2 separate regions of the Homo sapiens genome follow, and region 1 is linked to region 2. Evidence: fine-mapped expression QTL. Tissue or cell type: prefrontal cortex. Region 2 holds a variant in brackets; the other region holds the start of a gene. All regions are shown on one strand. Distances are from middle to middle.

Evidence for each region. PIP is the estimated chance that this variant, and not a neighbour inherited with it, causes the effect.
Region 1: it holds the start of CCDC15, and the variant in region 2 is fine-mapped to the expression of CCDC15 in prefrontal cortex (ROSMAP, PIP 0.95).

Annotation. Positions count from the first base shown.
Region 1 is chr11:124,949,331-124,957,437 of GRCh38, forward strand. It overlaps CCDC15 (coiled-coil domain containing 15), which reads left to right and starts at 4,872. Exons shown (of 16, transcript NM_025004.3): 1 at 4,872-5,040; 2 at 5,394-5,579. The coding sequence starts at 5,403. It overlaps CCDC15-DT (CCDC15 divergent transcript), which reads right to left and starts at 4,661. Exons shown (of 3, transcript XR_948134.3): 1 at 4,152-4,661; 2 at 2,009-2,220; 3 at 1-1,229. RefSeq lists an enhancer at 4,532-5,075.
Region 2 is chr11:124,982,528-124,990,634 of GRCh38, forward strand. It overlaps CCDC15 (coiled-coil domain containing 15), which reads left to right. Exons shown (of 16, transcript NM_025004.3): 7 at 4,215-4,361; 8 at 4,600-5,607. Among named protein-coding and RNA genes, the nearest start is that of CCDC15, 32 kb to the left of the region's middle. RefSeq lists an enhancer at 829-1,581. The variant CTG/C (reference allele first, on the strand shown) is at 4,140.

The sequences.
Region 1 (8,107 bases), 33 kb before region 2:
CTGCATCCTGCTGGTTGTAGAAGTGTTTTCTCTGCAAAAAGTTGTTGAGATGCTTGAAGAAGTGGTAGTTGGTTGGCCACAGGTCAGATGAATATGGTGGATGAGGCAAAACTTCATAGATCAATTTGTTCAACTTTTGAAGGGTTGGTTGTGCGACATGCAGTCGGGCATTGTAGTTGCTGTGGAGAAGAATTGGGTCCTTTCTGTTGACCACTGTCAGCTGCAGGTGTTGCACTTTTCAGTGCCTCATTGATTTGCTAAGCATACTTCTCAGATGTAATGGTTTCACTGGGATTCGGAAAGCCGTAGTGGATCAGACTGGCAGCAGACCACCAAACGGTGACCATGACCTGTTTTTGGTGCTTTGGGAAGTGCTGTGGAGCTTCTTCTGGGCCCAACCATTGAGCTGGTCATTGCCAGCTGTTGTATAAAATCTACTTTTCATAGCACATCTCAATCCAATCGAGAAATGGTTCATTGTTGTGTAGAACAAGAGAAGACAACACTTCAAAACGATATATTTTTTTTATTTTCAGTTGGCTCATGAGGCATCCACTTATCGAGCTTTTTTACCTTTCCAATTTGCTTCAAATGCTGAGTGACGATAGAATGGTCAACATTGAGTTCTTAGGCAACTTCTCATGTAGCTATAAGAGGATCAGCTTCAATGATTGCTCTCAATTGGTCATTGTCAACTTCCCATGGCCGGTCACTATGCTCATCATCTTCAAGGCTCTCAGCTCCTTTGCAAAACTTTCTTTCTTTCTTTCTTTCTTTTTAAATTGAGACGGAGTCTTGTTCTGTCACTGGAGTGCAGTGGCACAATCTCAGCTCACTGCAACCTCTGCCTCCTGGGTTCAAGCGCTTCTCCCACCTCAGCCTCCCGAGTAGCTGGGATTACAGGTGCATGCCACCATGCCCAGCTAATTTTTTTATTTTTAGTAGAGATGGGGTTTCACCATGTTGGCCTGGCTGGCCTCGAACTCCTGACTTCAAGTGATCCGGATGCCTTGGCCTCCCAAAGTGCTGGGATTATAGGTGTGAGCTGCTGCGCCTGGCCATCCTTTGCAAAACTTCTTGAACCACCACTGCACTGTACGTTCATTAGCAGTTCCTGGGCCAAATGCACTCTTGATGTTGCAAGTTGTCTCTGCTGCTTTGCAGCCCATTTTGAACTCGAATAAGAAAACTGCTTGCATTTGTTTTTTGTCTAACATAATTTCCATAGTCTAAAATAAACATAAACAGCAAGAAGTCATTAGCAAAAAAATAAAAGTGAGAAATGCCCATTAAACTGATGTATAACATAACCACATTTATTCAAGCATGTATTCCAACATCAAATGGCAAATTCCAACAATGAAAAACCACAATAACTTTTGCACTCACCTAATAGTAGCTGTTTTCTGTTCCTTGCCCCTCTGGGTGGAGGTGGGATGGGTTTCCTTCTTGCTATTCAGTTACTCAGTGCTTTTGCTAAACCACATCCTCCCTTTTTCTTAACCTCACCTCCAACTTTGAACCTCATGTCACCAGAATATACCATGCTTGGGTTTCCAAGCTATACTTACCCACCAACCTCCAAGCCTTTTCAAGATTGTTGCTTCTGGCTTTCTCCAACATCATTCTTGTTATATTTTTTGGTGATTTCAGTATCCTCATGGATCATCCAATCAATGCTCTGGTGTTTGGTTTCTATGACCTCTTCTCCAGTGATCTTGTTCTTTAACCCACCTTAGCTTTCCCTCCTTTGGTCATACCATAGACTTTGACAGCACCAATAACCACAACCTCTGCATACACTCAGCTCCAAGCAGCCTACTCTCAGACCACCTCTTATCTTAGCACATTCTTTTGAGTATCCTGTTCTAACAAACTTTAGACCACCACAGGAACCTACAACTTCTTGACTCTACCAACTTTTCATAGTCCCTTACCTCCTACTTCTCTCATTGTATAACAAATGACCCTCAAATTTAGCATCTTAATACAACAAACATTATCTCACACAGTTTCTCGTTGGGCGGTCTGGCTCAGGGTCTCTTATGAGGTTGCAGTCAATTGTTGGCTGAGTACAGTCTCTGAAGACTTGATTAGGGCTGGAGGGTCTACTTCCAAGTTCTTTCACAGGGCAGCTGGCAGAATGTTTCAGTTTCTTGCCATGTGATCCTCTTTATAGAACTGCTAATGATGTACATGGCTTCCCTCAGAACAAGAGATCTGAGAGGGAGGGAGGGAGGGAAGGAGGGAGGGAGAGAGAGTGAGCGAGCCCATGTGAGCATATCTCTTATAACCTAACCTCTGTAGTAATATACCATCCCTTCTGCCATATTCTGTTGGTCATACAGTCCAACCTAGGTACAATGTGGGAGGGGACTACACAAAGGTGTGAACACCAAGAGGTGGGGATCATTAGGGGCCATCTTGGAGGTTGGCTACAATACTATTTTACAGAGAAAACAGAGTAATCAGAAGAGAATTTCCATAAGCTCCTGCCACCACATTACCTAATTATCAGTTTACTGTGTATTCTAACTTTTCTGCTATTATTATAATTAACCATACCTCCTGCTATCTAAGGCCAATCCCTCCACTTGTTCACTAAATTCCATTTCCTCTATGAGGTTTGCACAAAGACAAAATCACCTAACATTTATCAAAATGTATCCCCATCTTTAAGTGACACATGACTGTAGATCCCTAAATTCTCCCATATCTCTCCCGCATCATTAGTTTTCTCCTGTCTATTGGTTAATTTCCATCAATAACAAATATATGCTATGATCTTAAAGAACTCTCCAATGATCCTACCTCTACGTTCAGCCACCTCTTTCGCTGTGTCCCTTCACAACAAAATTCATGGAAAGAATTGTCTAAAATTGCTGTCTCCAATTCCTTCTCCTACTCTTTCTTGCCTAGCCCATCAGGCTTTTGCTCTCCAACTACTCTAAAGACACTGCTCTTTTAAAAGTTATCAATCACTTCCACATGGTCAAATCCAATAGTCAATTTTCAGTCCTTACCTTATTTGATCTGTCAGTAGGATTTAACACAGATTGTCTGCCCTCAATGGAACATTTCTTTTTCACCTGGCTTTCAAGGTATCACACCCTCATAGTTTTCTTCCTTGGTTTACTGATTAATCCTTCTCAATCTCTTAGCATTCTCCTCCTCTTTTTCTCAGCCTCTGTAATACTGACATACCCTGGGGCTGTTTTAGGATTTATTCTTTTATCTGTCTATATTCAACCCCTTGATGACTCCATCCAGTCTCATGGCTTTAAATCTACAGGCTAACGACTCTTAGATTTATATTTGTAGCCCAGAACCCTTCTCTGAGCTCCAGACACTTTTTCTCATACTATCTTCTCGGATGTTGATTAGATAAAACTTTATCTGCCCCAAACTGAACTCCTGATCTTCCCCTTTCCAAATCTACTCCTTCCACCATCTTCACTATCTCAGTAAATAGTAATTTCATCCTGACAGCTGCTCAGGATGAAACCCCTAGTTTTCCTTGACATCTCTCCCTCACACAATCCATATCCAAACCTTCAACAGATCCTGAAAGTTTTGCCTCCCAAATAGATACAGAATCCAACCACTTATCATCATCTCCACCACTACCTCCTTGATCCAAGACATCACAATCCCTTAACTGAATTATTGCAATAGCCACCTAATTGGTCTTCTTTACAGTCTATTCTCACTACAGCATTCGGAATTATTATTTTTTTAATTTTGTCACATTATGGTGTTCCTTTGCTCCAAACCTTGCTCCAGTGGCTCCCCATCTCAACACCTATGGTGGCTTACGATGTTTGATCGGATTGCCTGCTTGACCTACTGTCTCAGCATTCTTCCACTCTCCCTCTGCTCCAGTCACACTATCCTCCTGACTTTTTCTCAACCAGGCAATGCTTCCACCTTGGGGCGTTTATACTTGCTGTTATATCTGGAACATGTTTATAAAGCCTCCGTTGAAGAGCACAGTGGCTTCTTCCATTAACTCATTTAAGTCTTTGCTGAAAAGTATCTCAGTGCAGCTTCTCTGGACGTTCTAATATTTCATCCCTCCAATCCCCACCCTGCCCACCACACTCCCTATCCGCTTTCTTTGCTTTTACTCCACATCACACACATTTACTTACTCATTGTTTATTCGCTTATTTCCCCTCACTCTATTGTGAATTCCCTGAGCAGGGATATTTGTTTCGTTCATAGCTATGTATCTCCGGTGCTTGGAACAGTACTGGTTTATAAAAAGTTAGTAGTAATGTATGTTAATCGAATGAATAAATTATCCTACAGAGATAATTGAGTGTCTCTGGATTACAGCAGAGCTTGCAGCAGAGAGGGAGACCACTCAACAGGCCGTGATGTCCAAATATAATAAGATGTATGAAACAGTACTGTAAAATTAGCTGCACAAAGGATCCGAAAAATTTGTTAGCTTAGTTTGTTTCTCCAGGAAGCCGTGCCAGGCTCGCCTCCCTCTTTCATTCTTTTCCCGTGATTCCCTCTACTGGGACTCCTGACCCTCCTAGTCGCCAGATCACAGGCCCAACGCATCCCTTTCCGGAGGGATTTAGGAAGTCTCGGCGTTGGTCCAGGAACGACAGTCCCACCGCGCCTCACATGGCGCATTACCCAGCGACTCCGCTTACCCACACGTCCCCGCCCCCTCAGCCGGACAGGAAGAGGAAATGACGATACCTCGGGCGCTCGAAACTCCACCTCTCACGCCTTCCCAGCTCCGGGAGGGGACGCGGGCTCCGGAAAGGGCGGGCATAAGGCTACGGATGGGCGGGACGGAGCAGCCCACCGCAAAGTGGCGGTCTACTTGAGGCGGTTACCTTAGTACTCCGAGTAGACTGAGTCTGTGGCGAGCTGCGGGCCGATTCCTGGCCAGTGCCATCTCAGCCGGAGCAGGCCTCGGGGCCTCAGAAGCAGGCTTTTATCTGGCCCGAGGCTCCCAGCCGTTCAGCGCGTCTTCCCATAACCTATACCGATTATTGGGACTCTCGGCTGCAGACACAGGTCCCCGCCCCTCCCTCTTTCTCCGGGTTGCAGCTGTCATTCCTCCCTTCCCGCCTCGCTGCGCCCACAGCTGAGGACAGTCTTCGTTCTCTCATTCCCATCCTTTCTCTTCCCTCTCATCGCCATTTCTTCTAGAAGGCAACTTAAAAACCTTTCTTTGCCTCTTTATTTCTTCCCATTTCTCTTCCCTTCTTTTCTTCCTTTTTCTCTAGAATCCGTGTGTTTCCACTTCATGCCAGGCTTCTGCCTCCAGGGCTTCTCTCCTTTTCACGGGCCTGTGGCTCATGTGTTAGGAGGTTGAACTTTTAATGCAGTCATTTGAAGATTTTAAGCTTTTTCTTTCTCCTAATCAGGAGTCACAGATGCTGGGAAGTATGGCCCGAAAGAAACCTCGAAATACCTCAAGGTTGCCCCTGGCTTTAAACCCCCTGAAGAGCAAGGACGTGTTGGCAGTGCTGGCTGAGAGGAACGAGGCTATAGTACCAGTTGGGGCATGGGTGGAACCTGCCTCACCAGGTAGTTCGGAAATCCCAGCATATGTGAGTGTCAGTTTGATCCAAATATGGTGGGGTTCCCCACCACCCTTTTTATTAGCCTTCTCTAATCCTGGGTGCTTAAAGATGAACAGTCCGAGGATGCTGTTTCTATTCTGCCATAAATAGTTTATGCTCTTGCATTAGGATTATAGAACAAGTATTTGCCAAAACTTGACTGCAGCTTTAGTTGGCATAATCAAATATTTATTACTCACCTACTATAATATATAGAGCATAATCTACATGGAACAGGTTATATAGATATATATCTGTATATCAGTTTACTTCAGACTCTTGATTGCTTGTTATGCCCAAGACATAAGCACTATCTACATCTTCCAGACACTGCAACTTAGTATGGATGATAGTTGGCATACTTCAAGTAACATTAATTGGTTGCTTAAGGTTTATGATAAATTTTGTAATGAGGATTCAGGCAAAATGGAGTAATAGAATAAAGGAGAAAGAGATGAACTCTGATAATCTGAGAAAGTCTAACTAGAAATTCCATGGTTTCTGATAGTCTTTCACCAAACTGTGCCCCTTAGCTATTTGTTCAAATTTAACTTGGCACTTACCACATTGTGTTATAGTAGATTGTTTATATATCTTTTCCTGATGCAGTGTGAGCTCCTTGAGCGTAGAGAACAAATGTCATTTATCATCACATTCCCACTTTTATCTTAAATACTGCCTAATCAATATAGACACTCATGAAGTATTTATGAAAGGCACAAAATGTCTTCTGTATGTGTAGACAAGGTGCTGAACATGGATGAAAAAAGGATGAGATATGTTCCCTCAGTGTACTTGATCTCAGAAGAGAAATGAGATGTGTTTAAATGTTAAAGTAATGCAATATACTATATTCATTTTATTTATGTTTGCACATATGTATGTATATTCATTGATTTATTCCTACCCTGCCTATTTCCAAAAAGGATTTTAAGAGTCTAGGTGGTATCTCTATCTAAGTTCTAAGAATATAATGCTCAATCAAGAAGCTATGACGTTGGGTTGATGTGACCCAGGAAAGTGTAATGAAGAATTTGATCGGAGAAGGGAAGGGAATGATTCTCCTATTAAGGAGAATGAGGAGAGTAAGAAGTAAGCAAGGTTCAGGATTCTAAGGGTAGATTAGATCGATTGGAGTGGAAAGCTTAGTAGGAGAATGGTTGCTGACAGGATTATGGAAAATAGGGATGGTAGAGTACCTTAGGAAATTTTGGAGAAGGGATTGACTTTGTTTAATATTTACAGGTGAATGTCATGATCAACCAGTGTTTTCTTTAGATGAATTGCTTCAAAGGTTTTGAAGGATAGGGAGTGATTGGATCCTGGGGATAAATTAGAATATAATTATAATAATTTAAGCATGGAGTATAGCATCGAAACTTTGTTAGTGGTAAGAAATAGAGAAGAACAGCCTTGAAAAAGGATGATTGAAGTGCTTGAGCCCACGAATTGTAGGCTGCAGTGAACTATGATCATACTACTGCACTCTAGCCTGGGCAATAGAGTGAGACCCCATCTCTGGAAAAAAAAAAGGAGTGGAATGAGAAGGGATGAATGCAGGAAACACCCCACAAGACTTGGTAAGATTTGGTATAAAGATATTTTGGTATTTAAGTTGTTGACACCTCTTTGTAATTGCTCAAATTACATCTGTATAATATCAGTAGTGTCAACATGCCTAAAATTTGACACCATCAAACTTTTTCTATGTTAAGAAGTATTGACTATCGTATTCACACACATTAACTCAAAATATTAAAGTCTTGGAACATGGATAAACATATCTCCTTTTCCTGATTTAAAAATTTCTGATCAGTTCCAGCCAAAGGGAGTTTGATCAAGCATCTAATAGAACTCCTTATAGCTTTAGCATATCTAGTCTGGGTATCCACCCTTATTAACGGATATAGCTCTGTCAGCTCAAAATAAATGCTGAATAGTTACTTCTAAAGCTTGGCCCTTAGATCATGTCTGTTCTAAAGGGGAACTTCTACTCATTTTTCTCCCCAAAATTTCAGGGGGCCATCAGGATTCCTAAAAATGTCATAGCTTTAGACTACCTCCCCCCAATAATTATTAATAAATTAGCATCAAAAGACACTGCTGTTCTATCATCATATATGGGATTGCATTATTTTATAATTTGTTCTGGTTACCTTTTGCTGTGTAACCAACCACCCCAGAACTTAGTGGTATAAAGCAAATAATACTATGTAACAGGAATTTGAGCAGGGTACAGTGGTAATGGCTTGTTTCTGCCCCATAGTGTCTGGGACCTCAGCTGGGGCTCAAATAACTGGACATGTCTGAGACACCTTGACTATTTTCCGGCTATTGGCTGGAGCTAGACAATAGTCAAGTTCTCCCAGTAATGTGGCACCTGCTGGGCTGTAATGTCCAAGATGGCTTTCTTATTCACATATCTGACGCTTGGCCTAGGATGACTAGAATGTCTGGGTGCTGGTTAGATATGTTTCTCTTTTCACATGGCTTCTCTGTTTGACTAACTTGGGCTT
Region 2 (8,107 bases):
TTTCTTCTTCACTTATGAAGCTTAGTGTGGCTGGATGTGAAATTCTTGGTTGTAAATTCTCTTCTTTAAGAATGCTTAATATAGGCCCCCAATCTCTTCCAGCTTTTAGGGTTTCTGCCACCAGGTTTGCTGTTAACCTGATGGGATTCCCTTTGTAGATGACCTATCTCTTCTCCCTGGCTGCCTTTAACATTTTTTCTTTTATTTTGACCTTGGAGAATCTAAGAACTGTGTGGTTGGGGGATGGTCTTCTTCTTTTGTAGTATTTTGCAGGGGTTCTCTGCATTTCCTGAATTTGAATGTTGGCCTCTCTAGCCAGGTTGGACAAATTTTCATGGATGATATGAAAATATGAAATACATTTTGCAAGTTGCTTGGTTTCTTTCCCTCTCAGGGATGCCAATGAGTCATAGATTTGGTCTTTTTATATACTTCCATATTTTTTGGAGGTTTTGTTTATTCTTCTTTATTCTTTTTTCTTTATTTTTGTCTGACTGAGTTATTTTGGAGAGCCAGTCTTTGAGCTCTGAGGTTCTTTCCTCAGCTTGGTTAATTCTGTTATTAATACTACTGCATTATGAAATTCTTGTAGTGTGTTTTTCAGCTCTATCAGATCAGTTTGCTTCTTATAATGGCCATTTTGTCTATCAGCTTCTGTATCGTTTTATTGTAATACTTAGATTCCTTGGACTGGGTTTTAACTTTCTCCTGAATGTCGATATTTTTGTTCCTATCCATGTTCTGATTTCTATTCCTGTTATCTCAACCATTTCAGACTAGTTAAGAATTATTGTTGGGGAACTAGTGCAGTCATTTGAGGTAAGAAGACATTCTGGCTTTTTGAGTTGTCAGAGTTCTTGCACTGGTTCTTATGTTTGTGGGCTGTGTTGTTCCTTCAGTCTTTGAAGTTGCTATCCTTTGGATTTTTTTTTTTAATCCTCTTTGATGTCCTTGGGGGTTTGATTCTGGTATAAGGGGGAGTCAGTTGACTGGCTTCATTTCTGGAAGATTTTAGGGGCCAGAACTCAGCTCATGACTCTTGGACTGTGTGCTCCAAATCTGGGGGGCTGGTATTGGCCCTGGCTTTGTTCTCTGGCCTCTTAAGGTTAGGAACCTGCCACACTGGAGGAGCTAAGGTGTTCCCAGGCTGCTGGTCACAACACACTGATGGATGGTGCCAGCCAAAACGCTTTTTTGGGTGGTGGCAATGGGATTCATGCTTGTTTTTATGTGCCAGCAGCAGTGGCAGCGTGGCAGGGTACACGCCGTGGTGGGGTGCCGGCAGGTGCAGGGGTGCTGGCCTCCTTGTGGGCATTTGCAGTGGTGGTGGTTGCAGTGCTGCACCAGAGGATGGAGCGGCGGGAGTGGGGCCTACTGGCATCAGTGTGCATGTTCACTCTGGTGGCAGTGTCAGCATGTCATGGGGCACTCACAGGCATGGGGCTGGTTCCCTCCAGGTAGGCGTTCATGTGCAGCAGTGGCCGTGCAGGGCAGGGGGTAGGGCTGCTCGTCTCCTTGAGTGCCTTTGCATTGGCAGTAGTGACACACCATTGCAGGCAGGGTGCGCTCACATTGGCAGCAGTGGCATGGTGGGATGCATGCACACTGGTGGGGAAGCAGAGGTGAGGTCTGCCTGCACACACACATGTGAGTAAAATGATGTAGGTGTTGCTATGGATGAGTGCATGCTGGAAAAGTGGCATGAGGGAGGACGCAGTGGGGGAAGGGCATAGGCAGGCTCATGCTGGTTGGTGTGGTCTGCTGTGATGGTCAGGCATGGTCTGCCAGCACAGGAGCTATTATGTGGGCCTCTGGGAGGCACCCCGGTGGGCATCTGAGGTTGCACTGCAAGCAGGGCTGGGGCCCTGGGAGAGGCTGGTAGACAGGGGTGCACTCATGTAAAACTGGCCCTGTCTCACGGGCAAGATCGCCCTGCACTGTTCACGTCCGACAGTTCCCCTGTGGCTAATGTCTCCTAGGGGAGCAAGGTGGGCCTTGGGGGATGGACAGCCTGACCATGCCCCACTACAGATACTCCTTTACCAAACCCTCTAGGCTTTGCACCGGCTGGAATTCTGCCCACCACCTCTCTAAGCAGCTCTCCCTGCCAGCGCAAGTGTCAGTGGGGTTATGGGGTCTCCTGCTGCCAGGATTCCAGAGGTCTGTGGAGTGAGCAGGTCTCTTCTCACTTGTTCAATTCATCCCTTCCCCAGGAGCCACTGGGGGCCAGGAACAAGTCCTGGTGCACGGTAGCCCTCTTCAAGGTTCCCACCTTCCTCCTCCTTTGGCCCAGCATCTGTGTCTTCCCTCTGTCCACTCTTAATGCCTTCCCTCCAGAGATCTGCTAAGAGTGTACCTAATGTTCCAGTCTCTCGGTAGTAGATGTTCCTCCTGGCTGCTTCTAGCCAGCTATCTTGTTTTTGGGATTTGCTCTAGAGCATTTTCTTCACTCCTAAGAGAAACCCTCTATCTCATTCTCTCCTTGCCCTTAACCTCAATCCTAGGCAGCTACTAATCTACCTTTTGTCTGTATAGGTTTACCTATACTGGACATTTCATATGAAAGGAATTATATGATATATCGTCTTTTGTGACTGTTTTTTCTCTTTGCATAATGTTTTAAAGTTCATCCACATTGTAGTGGATGTATCAGTACTTCATTCTTTTTATTGCTGAATAATTTATTGTATAGATGTACCACATTTGGTTTATCCATTTATCAGTTAGTAGACTTTGGCGTTCTTTTCACTTCTTGGTGTTTATGAATTATGAACGATTGTGTATGAGCAGTTGTGTACACATTTTTGTGTGGACATTCATTTCTTTTAGGACATTCATTTCTAGGAGTGAACCTGCTGGATCATATAGTAATTCTATGTTTAACATTTCAAAGAACTGCTAAACAGTTTTCCACCAGCAATATGTGAGGGTTCCAATTTCTCTGTATCCTCCAACACTTATTATTGTCCTTCTCTTCTGTTATAGCTATCCTAGTAGATGTGAATTGGTATCTCACTGTCCTTTTGATTTGTAGTATATTTTCCTGATGACTAATGATCTTCAGTATCTTTTCATGTGCTTGTTGCCCAGTTGTGTAACTCTTGTGGATAAAATGTCATGCATGTGCTTTACCCATTTTTTAATTGGGTTGTCTTTTTATTATCAAATTGTTAAGTGTTTATATATATATAAATTTATACATAAAATGTATATATATAATATGTATATATTCTGGATACAAGTTCCTTATCAGATAGTTGATTTGCAAGTATTTTCTCCCATTCTGTAGACTGTTATCTTACTTGATTAATAGTATTGTTTATGGCATAAGATTTTTAAATTAGTCACTTCTTTTTTTCTTATGTTGCTTGTGCTTTTGATGAATTATCTAATAATAATTGTTTATCTTGAGATCATGAAGATTTATTCCTATGTGTTCTTTTAAGATTTTATAGTTTTTAGCTCTTAATTTTAGGTCTGTGATCCATTTCGAGTTAATTTTTATGTATGCTGTAAATAAGTGGTTCATCTTCATTCTTTTGAATATAGGTGTCTAGTTGTCTCAGCATCACCTGTTGAAAACACTATTCTTTCCTCATTGAATTTTCTTGGTACTCTTGTCAAAAATCAATTGACTATAAATGTGAGGGTTTATTTCTGAACTTTGAGTTCTGTTCCATTGTTCTGTATGTGTCAGTATTACAATGTCTTGATTCCTATAACTTTGTGGTAACTTTTGAAATTGGGAGGAATGAGATCTTCATCTTTGTTCTTCTTTTTCAAGAAAGTGTTTTGCTACTATGGGTTCCTTGCATTTCCATCTGAATTTTATGATTAACTTGTTAATTTCTGCCAAAGAAAAGCCAAGTGGCATTTTGATAGGGAGTGTTGTAAATTTGAGAAATATTACCATCTTACCAATCTTTTCTCTTGATCCATGAACATGTTATGTCTTTCCATTTATTTTGATCATCTGTCATTTCTTTCAATTATCTTTTTAGTTTTCATTATACAGTCCTGCACTGTAAACATTGTATAACATTTGACTATGCTGACCTACTAAAATTATAATAGCAGTGACCTGAAGCCTAGAATTTTATTGCAATCACATTGTTTCTTCCTATAATAGCTACATGGTG[CTG/C]TGTGTGTGTGTGTGTGTGTGTTTGTGTGTGTGCGCGCGCGCGCGTGCGCGTTTTCATTGTTTTTTTCTTTAGGAACTTGACTATGAGGAACCTGACTATGAGGAATCTTCATCTCTTGTAACTGATGAGAAAGGGAAAGAAGATTTGTTTGGGAGAGGCCAGCAGGACCAGCAGGCTATCCATTCTGAAGATAAGAACAAACCTTTCAGCAGAGTTCAGGTAAAGCAATAAGAGAAATTAAATTAATTGTGATTTGGACTAGGTATTGCCAGTAATGTTGTACTGATTTAGGATTGTAGATTTAGCTTTTGTTAAGTTGGACAAAGATTATAATTTCACATTTTGTTCTAGTAATTTGCTTCACTGCCATATCATTTTGATATTTCGATTATTTTGGAAAATCTAGAGTATTGCTACTAACTCACATTCTGTATTTGGTGTTTATGTTCACTTTTAGAAAGTAAAATTCAAAAATCCATTATTTGTTCTGATGGAAGAGGAAGAACAAAAGCAGTTACATTTTGAGGGCCTTCAGGATATTCTGCCAGAAGCCCAGGATTATTTTCTAGAAGCCCAAGGTGATTTGCTGGAAACCCAGGGTGATTTGACAGGAATCCAGAGTGTTAAGCCAGATACCCAGGCTGTTGAAATGAAGGTTCAGGTTACTGAGCCAGAAGGCCAGGCCATTGAGCCAGAAGGCCAGCCTATTAAGACAGAAACTCAGGGTATTATGCTGAAAGCCCAGAGTATTGAGCTAGAAGAAGGGAGTATTGTGTTGAAAACCCAGGATTTTCTACCCACAAATCAGGCTCTTCTAACGAAAAACCAGGATGTTTTACTCAAAGACCACTGTGTTCTCCCTAAAGACCAGAGTATTCTACTCAAATATCAGGACCAGGACTTCCTACCCAGAGACCAGCATGTTCTCCACAAAGACCAAGATATTCTGCCAAAATATCAGGACCAGAATTTTCTACCTAAGGACCAGAATTTTTTATCTAGAGACCAGCATGTTCTCCCCAAAGACCAAGATATTCTGCCAAAATATCAGGACCAGAATTTTCTACCTAAGGACCAGAATTTTTTGTCTAGAGACCAGCATGTTCTCCCCAAAGACCAGAATATTCTACCTAAATATCAAGGCCAGGATTTTCTACCTAAAGACCAGGACTTTTTATCTAGAGACCAGCATGTTCTCCCCAAAGACTGGAATATTCTACCCAAATGTCAGGACCAGGATTTTCTACCCAGAGACCAAGGTGTTCTTCCCAAAGACCAAAATATTCTACCCATATGTCAGGACCAGGATTTTCTACCCAGAGACCAAGGTTATCTTCCTAAAGACCAAAATATTCTACCCATATGTCAGGACCGGGATTTTCTACCCAGAGACCTGCATGTTCTCTCCAACGACCAGAATATTCTACCCAAATGTCAGGACCAAGATTTTCTACCAAAATATCAGGTAAAATAGAGCAGAAAGGAGATACAAAAAGAAGAAATAAGCTACTTAGGGTTTGAGGAGGGATTTGTAAGGACTGCAAGTATACCTTGGAGATACTGTGGGTTCAGTTCCAGGCCATTGCAATAAAGCAAATATTGGAATAAAGTAAGTCACACAAATTTCTTGGCTTCCCAGTACATATAAAAGTTATGTTTATATTGTACTGTAGTTTATTAGTGTGCAATAGCATAATGCCTAAAAAAAGTACATACCTTAATTTAAAAATACTTTATTGCTAAAAAATGCTTACGATTATCTGAGTCTTCGGCAAGCCATAATCTTTTTGCTGGTGGAGGGTCTTGGCTCAATGTTGTTATCTGCTGACTAATCAGGGTGGTGATTACTGATGTTTGGGGTGGCTGTGGAAGTTACTTAAGATGATGAAGTTTGCCACATCATTTGACTCTTCCTTTCACGAAACATTTCTCTGTAGCATGTGATAATGTTTGATAGCATTTGATCTACAGTAGAACTTCTTTCAGAATTGGAATCAATTCCCTCAAACCCTGCCACTGCTTTATCAGCTAAGTCCGTGTAATATTCTAAACCCTTTGTTGTCATTTTAACAATGTTCACAGTAGATTCCATCTCAAGAAAACACTTTCTTTGCTCATCATAAGAAGTAACTCCTTATCCATTTAAGTTTGAACATGAGATTGCAGCAATTCACTCACATCTTCAGGCTCCACTTCTAATTCTAGTTCTCTTGCTGTTTCTACCACATTACAATTACTTCCTTCACTGAAGTCTTGAATGCCTCAAAGTCCATGAGGGTTCGAATCAACTTCTTCCAAACTCCTGTTAAGGTTGATATTTTGACCTCCTCCCATGATTCATGAATGTTCTTAATGGCATCAAGATGGTGGACCCTTTCCAGAGGGTATCAACTTACTTTGCCCATATCTATCAGAGGAATTGCTGTCCGTGACAGAAATGTATTTTATAAATAACAAGACTTGAAAGTCAAAATTATTTCTTGATCCACAAACTACAGAATGGATGTTGTGTTAGCAGCCATGAAAAAACAACATTAATCTCCTTGTATATCTTCATCAGAGCTCTTGGGTGACTAGGTGCATTGTCAATGAGCAGTTTAAAAGGCATCTTTATTTTTTTTGGAACAGTTGGTCTCAACAGTAAGTGTAAAATATTCTGTAAAACATGCTGTAAACAGATGTGCTGTCATCTTGGCTTTGTTATTCCCTTCACAAAGCACAAGAAAAGTAGATTTAGTGCCATTCTTACGGGTCCTAGGACTTTTGGAATGGTAAATGTGCATTGGCTTCAACTTAAAGTCACCAGCTGCATTAGCCACTAACAAGAGAGTCAGCCTGTCCTTTGAAACTTTGAAGCCAGACATTGACTTTTTCTCTCTAGCTGTGAAACTCCTAGTCATCTTCTTCCAATATAAGGCTGTTTTGTCCAAACTGAAAATCTGTTGTCCAGTGTAGCCACCTTCATCAGTGATCTTAGCTAGATCTTCTAGATAACTTGCTGTAGCCTCTCATCAGCACTTACCGCTTCACCTTGCCCTTTGATGTTATAGAGACACCTTATTTCCTTAAACCTCATGAACCAACCTCTGCTAACTTCCAACTTTTCTTCTGTAGTTTTTTCACTTCTCTCAGCCTTCATAATATTGAAGAGAGTTAGGGCCTTGCTCTGGATCAGGCTTTGGCTTAAGGAGCTGTTGTGGCTGGTTTGATCTGTCCATACTGCTAAAACATTTTGCATATCAGCAATAAGGCTATTTTGCTTTCTTATCATGTATTCACTGGAGTAGATTTTAATTTCCTTCAAGAACTTTTCCTTTGCATTCACACAGGGCTGTTTGGTACAAGAGGCCTAGCCTTCGGACTGTCTTGGCTTTCAACAGGCCTGTTTCACTAAGCTTAATAATTTCTAGCTGTTGCTTTAAAGTGGGAGACATGTGGTTCTTTCTTTCACTTGAACACTTAGAGACCATTGTAGGGTTATTAATTGGCCTAATTTCAATATTGTTGTGTCTCAGTGAATAGGGAGGCCTAAGGAGAGGTAGGGGGGTGGCCAGGTGGTAGAACAGTGAGAACACACACAACATTTATCAGTTAGGTTTGCTGTCTTAGATGAGCGTGGTTATGGTGCCCCAAAACAATTAGGATAGTAACATCAGAGATCACTGATCATAGATCTCTATACCAGATATAATAGTAATGGAAAAGTCTGAACTATTGTGAAAATTTCCAAAATGTGACACAGAGACATTACACGAGCACATGCTGTTGGAAAAGTGACACCAGTGTATTGGCTTGACGTATGATTGCCACAAACCTTCAGTTTGTAAAAAACACAACATCTGCAAAGCATAATAAAAATAGGTATGCTGTATATTGTACCTGATTTGGAGATCCATACTTGGAAAAAATAGTTTCTTGATTGATTTCTCAAAACTCCAGTGCTCTTACTAAATGTTAAAGTATTA